Regions from separate parts of the Homo sapiens genome. Here region 1 is linked to region 2. Evidence: fine-mapped expression QTL. A gene starts in region 2. The other region holds a variant in brackets. All regions are shown on one strand. Distances are between the middles of the regions.

What was found. PIP is the estimated chance that this variant, and not a neighbour inherited with it, causes the effect. A credible set is the group of variants that fine-mapping cannot tell apart.
Region 1: its variant is the best candidate, but not a certain one, in a credible set for the expression of EXOSC9 in tibial nerve (GTEx, PIP 0.51).

Annotation. Positions count from the first base shown.
Region 1 is chr4:121,911,215-121,916,599 of GRCh38, reverse strand. TRPC3 (transient receptor potential cation channel subfamily C member 3) reads left to right here. Exons shown (of 12, transcript NM_001130698.2): 4 at 1,656-1,820; 5 at 4,507-4,723. Among named protein-coding and RNA genes, the nearest start is that of TRPC3, 38 kb to the left of the region's middle. The variant T/C (reference allele first, on the strand shown) is at 2,859.
Region 2 is chr4:121,798,489-121,803,873 of GRCh38, reverse strand. It overlaps EXOSC9 (exosome component 9), which reads right to left and starts at 2,551. Exons shown (of 12, transcript NM_005033.3): 1 at 2,384-2,551; 2 at 1,953-2,047; 3 at 1,081-1,200; 4 at 857-959. The coding sequence starts at 2,449. RefSeq lists enhancers at 2,481-2,750, 2,559-3,362.

The sequences.
Region 1 (5,385 bases), 110 kb before region 2:
TGGAAAGAGCGAGCTCTCCTGCCTCTTCCTATCAGGGCTCCAGTCTCATTCATGAAGGCTCCTCCCTCATGATCTAATTACCTCCCAAAAGCCTAGCTTTCTAATACCCATCACATTGAGGCTTAGAATCTCAACATAATAACTCAGTTAATTATTTCAAATCTAATATTCATAAATTTATTCTCACCACCTCTGTCTGTGGGTCGTTAAGTACGCATGTATGGTGATGCGGAGGCAGCTGCCAGTGCAGCCATCAGTGGACTTTACACTGGGTGCACTCTGGGGGCAAAGGCAGGGATTTGGGGGAAATTGAACCTACATCGCCTGTCCTGGGAGATGAGACTTTCTTTTTTAATTAAAATTGTTGATGGGAAACTATGCACCAGTCAGTGGAAACCTGTGCATTTCCTTGTAGGTGGGCTTTGATAAAGAGCCAAATATTAATAACTCTAGGAATTGCCTGGAGTTACTAAGAATCATCAGGATTATTAACTAGAACTTGATCAAAGAGGAACCTTTTGACAAGTAGGAACTGCAGCTACTCTGTTTCTCAGTTCCCAAAAACATTTCATGGGTGTTTCTTAACAGGTTCATTGTTATTGCTTATTCTGTTTTTTAGAAGACAGTGACACCTTGATTTTTGTGTTGCTAAGAACTCCTTTAAAAAATATGTTGTCACTCATAGTTGATTTTTGAATTCCTGAGCTTGGACAAAGAGCATATGACCATTCAAAAAAAGGTGTGTCTAGCTACAAATGGGCAGATTTTGGCATAGGGACCTTTACAAGGGCCTGAGTACAAATGCATTCTGCTTCTTGAATAAGAACAGGGCTTTAAAGAAATCCCAGTCCTTCTAAATGATGCAGGCAGATAACTTAACAAAATCAAACGGGAAAAAAAAAATCAAATGGCTGGGCTGAAATAAGTATAATTTGCTCATTTTTCCTGATTAGAATTGTATTTATTAAAGAACTGCTGAAGATAAATAGTCATGTTCTTTTGACCTTTTGATACAGGAAGCAATAAAAAAGAGGACGGGAGGGAAGTGGCATTTGGTGCCAGTTCCTGGAAGAAGTGCATGTGTAGACCCAGCATAATACTTGCAAGTTCAATTGATTATTTTTCAGGCCTTTTACAGATTTGCAGTAATAGTACATAATTACACAAAGGGTGCATTATGCATTTTTTTGTATGTAGCATTTTAGGGGTTGCTCGCGAAACTTCACACATTTCTCTTTTAGCTATAGCCTACAATAAACCAAGTAACTTTTCTTCTTTTCCATTTTGAACTGAATGCAAGTAAGCTGGCCAACAGCAAGATGGGACACATTTTTACAAAAGAAGCCAGATGTCACCCAGATTCCACAGAGAAATCTGTGAATCATGGAGGGTTTCTATCAAAAAGAACTGTGATTAAGGACACCACCAATTTTACCTTCTCATTTCCATTCTAATTCTTCTATTAGTTCTGAAACAATTTTGAAAAATGGAGGGAAAGCTAAGAAGAATATTACCAGAACCTTCCAGTACCAATATGCTAGAAAAAATATGCTTTAATATCTTTAGGATGCATGTGTATTTAATAGTTGAGCTATTGACAATGGTATGGTAACTTACCTTTCTCTCCCCTTCTCAAACTCTCTCTCTCCCAATAGTTTGTGGCTCATCCCAACTGCCAGCAGCAGCTCTTGACGATCTGGTATGAGAACCTCTCAGGCCTAAGGGAGCAGACCATAGCTATCAAGTGTCTCGTTGTGCTGGTCGTGGCCCTGGGCCTTCCATTCCTGGCCATTGGCTACTGGATCGCACCTTGCAGCAGGGTACTTGCTTTCTACATCTATTTCCTCTGTGGTGGTGTACTGTGTCTCTTTGGGATAAAAAAATAAAAAGCTTCATGCTTAAGAATCTTATCAGTTTTACCCTGAATGTTAATTGATTCAAGAACACAGATTCTCCTTTTTAATTACTGGATCAATTCAAATAAGGGATGAAAAAGGATTTGGTACCAGTGGGATATACCACATTTGCAGGCATAAAGTACTTAGGCTTTTAAGATAAAATCCTCATGGTAGACAGAGAAGGAAAAGCTGCTTGAGTGAAGTAGCCCTTGTACTGATTTTATTGACGGCTTAATAAGTAGAGTGTCGACTGGGCTGGCCTGTGAACAGACCGGGGAATGGAGAGCACTGCTGCAGTAGTACCAAGAAACAGTTACGCTGGGAACTAGAAGGGCAACCCATTTGGACCTGTCAGAAGAAATCCAAGGTTAAGTGTGCGAAGCACAGTTGAGAACAGCAGTGGTATCCAAAGTCTTCAAGAAAATGCATGTCAGGTTCCCCTAGCCCTTTGTTAATTCAGACAGTTCTTAAAAATGTAGGATTTAGGTTCAGGGGTTTTAGATTTTTTTAGATTGTTTATTTGGTTTTGCTTGGATCATTTTGGTTAGTACCTTTATTCTCCTCTCAACTTTCCAATGTAAAATCAATTTAGTTGTGCCCAAGAGATCCCCTAGCAAGATGTGGAAAGGAATACTATTCATGCCAGTTATTACAGGCACTGCCAGAGAGAAGGAGCTGTGCTGAGATCCTTTAATCCTGTTTTTATATTCTGAAATTTGGTTTTGTTTAAGTCAGAGGTAGTTTCAAGGCAAAATGAGTCAAGGGCACTTACAAGTGATCCTGGAAATCTATCATCTCTCTGGCTCAGCAGTCTCCACCGGCAGAGTTCTGCTCTGCAAACACCATATATGTGTGAGAATATTCATCCATCTCATTTCATCATTGAGTTGCCCATGCAAATTAAGGCAGAAAGTTTGTCATTTTGATCATGTTTGATGACTCAGCCAAGTTCTTTTGTTA[T/C]GTATCATGGAAAATTACTTTAAGATTCTTCAAATACGTAAACACTAAAGATGAAAAACTATAAATAATATGAGAGAGCATGCAATAAAAAAAATCATATCCTACCCAAATAATTTTCTTTTCTGAAGGAAATGAGTTGGAAAGTTCAGGTTTAGAAATGTTTGTCTCTTAGGGGAACTTAATCAGTTAAAACATTCCATCAGGTTTGAAGTAGCCATCTTGGAGTCCACTTCTTTTTTCCCTGCACTTTTACAAGTACAACTAACAGTGTGGCATGCTCTGCAGAGAAGGGAAACATGGAAGTTGAGCCATTCCCAGAGCCCATGTTTAGAGCTGCCGTATACCACCTATCTTATGGAAAAAGGCAACATAGCAAGAATTTTCCATGTATGTCCCATTTTTGAGATTGGCATTCTGCTTTCTTTTCATGTTATTTAAAGTTTTAAAAGATTGACCTTTAGGAGAAACAGACTTGGTAATTCCCAAGAAATTTCTATGTGCTACGGATAAGCTACCCCCAAACGTGCCCTTTTTGCAGCTGTGTAACAACAAGGTGATGTGTAAATGTGTTGTTTATTCTTCTGTGTCTAACATGGAAAATGTGACATTCGTCTGTGTGCATTCATGTTCAATCCCAAAAATCCCTGACATCTCTTTCATCATTTATTGACATCCCATTAAGGTTCTAGACCTACAAAAACATTTGTTTGGAGTTAACAGTCCCTTAAATGTGAACCTCAGTACTTTATAAGGTCACAGACAGAGTTAAAAAGCAGGGTCTGAGAGTGTAGAAAAGAGAACATACTTGATAAATCTACCAAATGTACCTAATTCTTGGACTGTGGGGGCCCTTGGGACAGGAGGAATGGTTTTTCATTTTCACGGGAACGTGGGACTTTTAAGGACATTATATCATAGGGGATTTTAAAGGAGTCACCTTAAAATAATTATATACTGAACTTTGGAAGTCCCTTTGTACCATTTACATGATTATCCAACTGGGAGATCACTTTCAAATAAGTTAACCTACTTAGAGGTTTTAATTATTGTGTATCTCCTTATTAGGGGCAGTAACAGATACAATATTCATCTTGGTTCTAATATTTTCTGCCTTTTTTATAGCATACCAGGTATAACTTGATTTTGGAATATTTAGAAATGAGAACTAAAATTTACTTCTGTAGTAGTAATTTTTTTAATCTTCAAAGGGTTTTTAAGGTCTTATATGAGTCTATAAGATCCTCATAACATCTCAATTACAATTACAAAGCAATGAAGAATTACACAATACAAAGTTGAAATTTCTTTTTCCAGACCCTAAAATCCAGACTTTGCATATTCTTTTGTGTAAAAATAAGAGCAAGAACCAGTATAGGCCCTGTGATTTCCAGAAGTGCATCTGTGAATGCAGTCTACCCTAAGACAAATTGGACATTTAGAAACAATGAATTTTGAATACTTATTAAATTATTTTTGGAGGAAGCATTCCCCTAAAAAAGAATATTTTTCATAATATAAAGCTTTTTGGAAACAGAAGCAGAATTTTGAGTGTTCTCCTTTCATCTATTTTTTTTAATCCTATGTTGTAATCTCCACAAGTGAAAGCCAGATTTTCTGAAGCAAACTTTTCCTCTTTGGTTTGTTACAGCTGGGGAAAATTCTGCGAAGCCCTTTTATGAAGTTTGTAGCACATGCAGCTTCTTTCATCATCTTCCTGGGTCTGCTTGTGTTCAATGCCTCAGACAGGTTCGAAGGCATCACCACGCTGCCCAATATCACAGTTACTGACTATCCCAAACAGATCTTCAGGGTGAAAACCACCCAGTTTACATGGACTGAAATGCTAATTATGGTCTGGGTTCTTGGTAAGTCTTTTATTTTAAATATCCTAATTTCTACCAAAAGGTAATTATAGAAATAATTGTCATTTTCTATTGAAAAAAAATGTTATTATATCTTATATGGTGACAACATCACTGTTGCAAGATAAGCTAAATAGCAAAATAACCAAATAATTTTCTAGCTAGATAATGCCAAAAGGTGTCCCTTAACACTACATAAAATTTTTTATGAGTAACGTGACCCTAATTACAAATATACTATGTTTCAGAAATCTAACTTCAATTATTGAACAAGATGTAAGTTTTAAAATGTAACTCACTGTGATTATTTAATTGAAATACTTATGAAATAACCCAATGGCTATCAACTGATGACAAATACTTTCTTTGTTGTTTTAGTTCCAGAGATTTTAGGAGAGTTTTCATTTTCAGAATGTTTGTTATTAGGTTGGGTACAAAAATAACTGTGGTTTTTACTATTTTTAAAATGGCAAAAACTGCAATTACTTTTGCACCAACCTATTTCGTCTTACAATAACCCATTTTGAATAGCTGTGTTAAAATAAGAATTTGAAGTAATGTGAGGAAAAGAATTTATTGTGTTCTCTGCTAAGAAATGGAGATTGGAACCAGGTTGTTTATTTCTGATTAATCCGAAGTCATTTTTGTATTTGTTTTATCCAATG
Region 2 (5,385 bases):
AAAATGCTTGTCAAAATACCCTAATCAAGAATCAAATTCTGGCCAGGCACAGTAGCTCACGCCTGTAATCCCAGCACTTTGGGAGGCCAAGGCAGGTGAATCACTTGAGGTCTGGAGTTCAAGACTAGCCTGCTGGTGAAACCCCATCTCTACTAAAAATACAAAAATTAGCCGGGCGTGGTGGCAGGCGCCGGTAGTTCCAGCTGCTCGGAAAGCTGAGTGGGAGAATCGCTTGAACAGGGGAGGCAGAGGTTGCAGTGAGCTGAGATTGCACCACTGCACTCCAGCCTGGGCAACAGAGTGAGACTCTATCTCAAAAAAATAAAACAAAATAAAATAAAATAAAATTCTAATATCCTAATGCAGCACAATTTATTGGGACTAAGATTTTCAAAGTTATCCCTGCCACTGACATGGTGTGGCCCTGTGTAAATCGATAAACCTATCCAAATGAAGGATTTCATCTGTTCTTGAGTTCTGCATGAAAAAGGAAAACTACCTGCTTCTATGAACTCATGTAGAAAATGAGAGATTATATGAAAAAGCCACAAGTTCTTTGAATAAAATATTTTTACACAAAAATCTAAGTTGCTATTTTCACCCTTTTAAGATAAAGGGTGAAAACCTTTTAGAAACCTTTAAGAAAAAGGGTGTCCTCTGAAGGGACACCCTTTTTGTCCCTTCAGAGAGAGAGAGGTAGCACAAAGTTCTAAGGGTATCACTCAAGAACATCTGAAGTGAAGCAAACCAGTACAATACTGAGTTAACTAAAGTTCTGAGAATAAAAGGATAGATACCGGGATCCATGATCAACAGTATTCATCCTAAGATTAAGAATTATGGGCATATTCCCCACCTTTTCACCAGCAACAACACAGAGAGACTCAGTGTCTATACACTTCGAATTTCTTAGACATCTTTCCATGAGTCGATTCAACTTCACCAAGAGATCTGACTGCCTATAAGGAGAAAATAGGAATGGGCTAATGTCATGAAATATAACACCAGGTATTAAAACAAAAGCTCACTGCTGTTAGGTTCTCCTATGACTAAAGCAACTTAAGAAAAAGATTTAAATACCTGCCAGGTTCGAAAGCTGGAGCGGCCATCTGAGAGAGTTCAAGGTTAAAAAAAAGAATACCTTCTGTTGCCCGATTGAGTTTTGGAGACACAAGTTCACAGGAAACCTGTCCAAGAACTCTGCAAAGATAAAGTTACAAAGTATTAACCAAATAGACTCTCCTTCCAAAACAAAAAACTGAAACAGATAACAAGTTTCAATCTTAATGTGAGTAATATCATACTCAGCCAAATAAATCATAGGAGATAAAAATTATATGTAAAGTATAATATACACAGAAATAAAACATAAATTGGTACAACTAAAAACACGACAGAAAAAACACCTCTCTTCTTATTACAATGTTTACTATTCCACAGATTGTTTTAAAAATCAGTGACCTTTACCTCTAAAGCAAGTATTTATTGATACAAGATGGCATGAAAACCTGAGATTTCTTAAAGGTTTTCACATGGCATAGTTCACCACCATTATGTGACCAAATAGCCTCACAACTTTCAAATGAATATCTGAAAACCTAATTTTCATGTCACTCAGGAAAAAGAAAGCAGGATGTACACTTAATGACAAGATGCTCAAGATCTCTATATTAGTGTGAGAAACAAATTCCATATGATCACTACTAGTTGTCTATACGATTTATAGAAGTCAGAAAAGAACTATGTGATACGTGACAGAAAATACGTTTATGATTAAAAAGTTCAAGTGTGACCACAAAAGCAAAAAATCTCGCATAAAAAAATACTTATTTTTGTCAGCTAAACAAAGAATACTGTCCAGACTTCTTAGCTGCTTTATAAACAACCAAGTCAATAAGGTCTTTTTTCAAACTTCTCCCTTCCGAATGTGTATCTCATTTAAATCCTGTTACCTTGTTTTTCCAAGTTCCACAATGCAGCATCCGTAATCTGTTCCAAATGAGATCCTGATGTTCCTATAATCATAGGTTTGTCTGCCATCCAGCCGCTGTAAGCACAAATTCATTCATTAATTTATTCCTTCAACAAGTATTTCTTAAGCAACTACTTTTTGTCTGGCCCTGGGCTAAGCACTTGGGGGAAAGTGGAATCCTAACCAGCCCGCCCATACAGGAAAGTGGAAACTACAGCATGGACAACTGCTGCGGTGACTGGAGCCTTGAAAAGAACCTGTCGAAAAAAAATAAATAAAGCCTGAGGGATGGGGTGAACGTGCCGGTCGTTCCCCTAGTAGCTCCCCGGGCCCAGGCGGGCCAGGTATCAGTCCACACCTTGAGACCCGAGCGCCCACGCAGCGCGCAATTCTGCGGGCACCAAACCATACCTTCTTCTCTTCGATGGCACGGAGTAGGAAGCGGCGTTCGCAGTTTGAGAGTGGCGTTTCCTTCATGGTGTTGGGTCACCGGCCCCACAGGCACCAGAATCCGCGGGAAAAACGGAACCCGATCTTTCCTTGCGCGCCGCTGCTCGCCCCGAGGCGCAGGAAAATTACGTCATCAAGGCGCGGCGGCGGAAAAATGGGAAATGGCTTGGGCTGCAGCTACTGCGCAGACTCAAAGCGTGATTGGGGAAGGCCAGCGAGCTGCGAGAAGCCATTGCGGCTTTGGGAGGCCGTTTCTGAACGTGAAGTTCCGTTTCTTTTCTCATAAAGTGCAGAGGAGAAAAGGATACTTAAAATAACCATGAGAGTGATAGAAATTATTATCAGTAGACCGCTCGCACACTTCACCCTTTGCTCAGTCCTCTCACGGGGTGGAGACTAGACATGTACTTCTGCAATTTCACAGATGAGTTGACATTGGTCCCTGGAAAGCCGCAGATGCAGGATTTGGAGCAGATTAAATGAACAAACACTGGAATGAGGCGGCATAAGGGTTGGGGGAGAAAGATAAATTGGTGAAATGGGATGTTTTTGTGGCCAAAGGTGAAATCTTGTGGGATCTGAGAAGTTGATGAGAATGGAGAATGTTCGCACGTAGTAACTAACGATGTTACTACTACTGTGGACTGAAAGTAAATGCACCGTTTATTTCTTATCCCCTCTCCAGTTATTTTAAGTCGATAGACTTTTTTTTACGGTCACAGAGAAGCCTTAGCGGGGCCATGCTGCCAACCACTCAGCTTTTTTGGAGAGGCAGTATCAAATAGTAGTTTTAAAAAGTGTTCACTGCCAGGGTTCAAATTTTAAGGCTATCATTAACTACTATAACCCTGGGCAAGTTAACCTGTGTGCTTCACATTACTCACCGGCAAAAAAAAAACAAAAACAAAAACAAAGCAGGGGAAGTGAGAAACCTATTTATTCTGAGGAATAAAAATGAGTTAATATATACATAAAATGTTTAGAACAGTGCCTGGCATGGAATAAGCACTATTTAAGTGTTTGCATATTATTATTTTGTTTCCTTTTGCTTTAGAGGTGGTAGGCACTGTAACTCCTACGCAGTCTTTCTCTGGCTTCTTTGGTAGCTTCTCACAAGTTTTTTCTACCAGTGATACATTTTAGTCTCACTTTGTACCACTTGCAATCCATGTACTCAATAAATACTTGAAGAGGGCCTACTCTGTCCAAGAATAATTTAAGTGCTGGAGAAACAGGGTAGACAAGATCCTTTCAAGGAATTTATATTCTTTTTGGAAAAGGCAAAAAACCCTAAACAAATAGAACAATTTCATACAGTGTTAAGTGCTCTCTGAGAATAGGAATGCTATCTTAATAGGGGTAGTTGCAGGAACAGGTGACTTTGTAGCGGTGACATTAAAGTAAAGTAAATCTTTGGTGTTGAGCAGGAGCACCCTTGATGCCATCTGGAGAGGAAAAGTGTTTCAAGCAGAAAGAGTAACATATGCAAAAACTGAGATGAGATGAGCTCCACATGGTCTGGAGAGAGAAATTGTGAAGAAGGAGGAAAGTGGACAGAAATGATTAATTTTCAAAATCGGCAAGGGGATTACAGGGTACTAACCACTTAAGTTCTTTAGCAACATGAATTCATTTTTATAGTACAGTTTCATACCAGAACTCCTGGTTGATAAGTTCTTCATTTAAATCCTTGAGTTCTTTCAGTGGCCATTTGGTAATTTTTCCCTTCAGCGATGAAATAGACCTTTGTTGAAATAGCCTGTTATTTACTGCAAGGCAGCTTGGTAATGGAAAGAGAATGGACTTTGGCTTCAGATAAAGTTCAGCTCAAATGAACTTGGAGTGAGCTAAATATTCTTTCTGATTTGGGGGTTCTGTATCTTCAGATTGGAAATAACAATTATTCTGTGTTAAGTGGTCTGAATGAAAGCATCTGATGAAACATTTTGGACATGATAGCTATTCAAATGTTAGTTTCCTCCTTTCTTGTTGGGTTGGCAAAGGCTTCCCATGAAACTGCCCAAACTCAGCATGACAGATTGCTTTTCTGAAACTGCTGCTTGATTACTTTGCTTTCCTTCCACTTTTGTTGAATTTCCACTGTTCTTTTCTACTTTCACTTTTATATTCTAATTTAAACACTCTTGCTTTTGTCTTTTTATTTTCGAGTTAATCCAAAGGTGTATGACCCATCTCCACTTACATCTACATACCATCCTAAAATATATGTACTTTACAACCTTGTGTTTATAAGAAATTTTTGAATGCCAAAGGAAAATTTGTTTCATGATTTCAGGGAAAAATAAGTTTGGAAGGTTAAGAAGAGGTTCAGATAATGTGTCAGGTAATGTGATACATTCTATTATTTTTTTTTTCTTTTTTGAGAGAGTCTCACTCTGTCACCCAGGCTGGAGTGCAGTGGCATGATCTTGGCTCACTGCAACCTCCACCTCCCAGGTTAAAGTAATTCTCCTGCCTCAGCCTCCCAAGTAGCTGGGACTACAGGCATGCACCACAACGCCTGGCTAATTTTTGTATTTTTAGTAGAGATGGGGTTTCACCATGTTGGTCCGGCTGGTTTCAAACTCCTGATTTCAGGTGATTCGCCCACCTTGGCCTCCCAAAGTGCTGGGATTACAGGAGTGAGCCACCGCACCTGGCCTCACCTTCTGTTCTTAAAAGAAGAATCAGTTGGAATCAGCATATTAATCTGGATGATCTGTCTAAAAATAACCTAGTTCTCAACAAACTATTTGAGTGTGCATTCTCTTTATTGAACATCAGTTGCTTTGTCTGACCAGCAGCCTTCTATTTCTTGGAGAAATGCCCTTTCCTGACCCCATGCGATTCTAGTGAGCCAATACATTTGAGTTGGTCTTTGTAAAAGTGTGTCCGAAGGAATTCTAGTACATTTCTACTAGAGTATAAAGTCTATGTCTTCTTCACCTTTGTAGCACCCACTG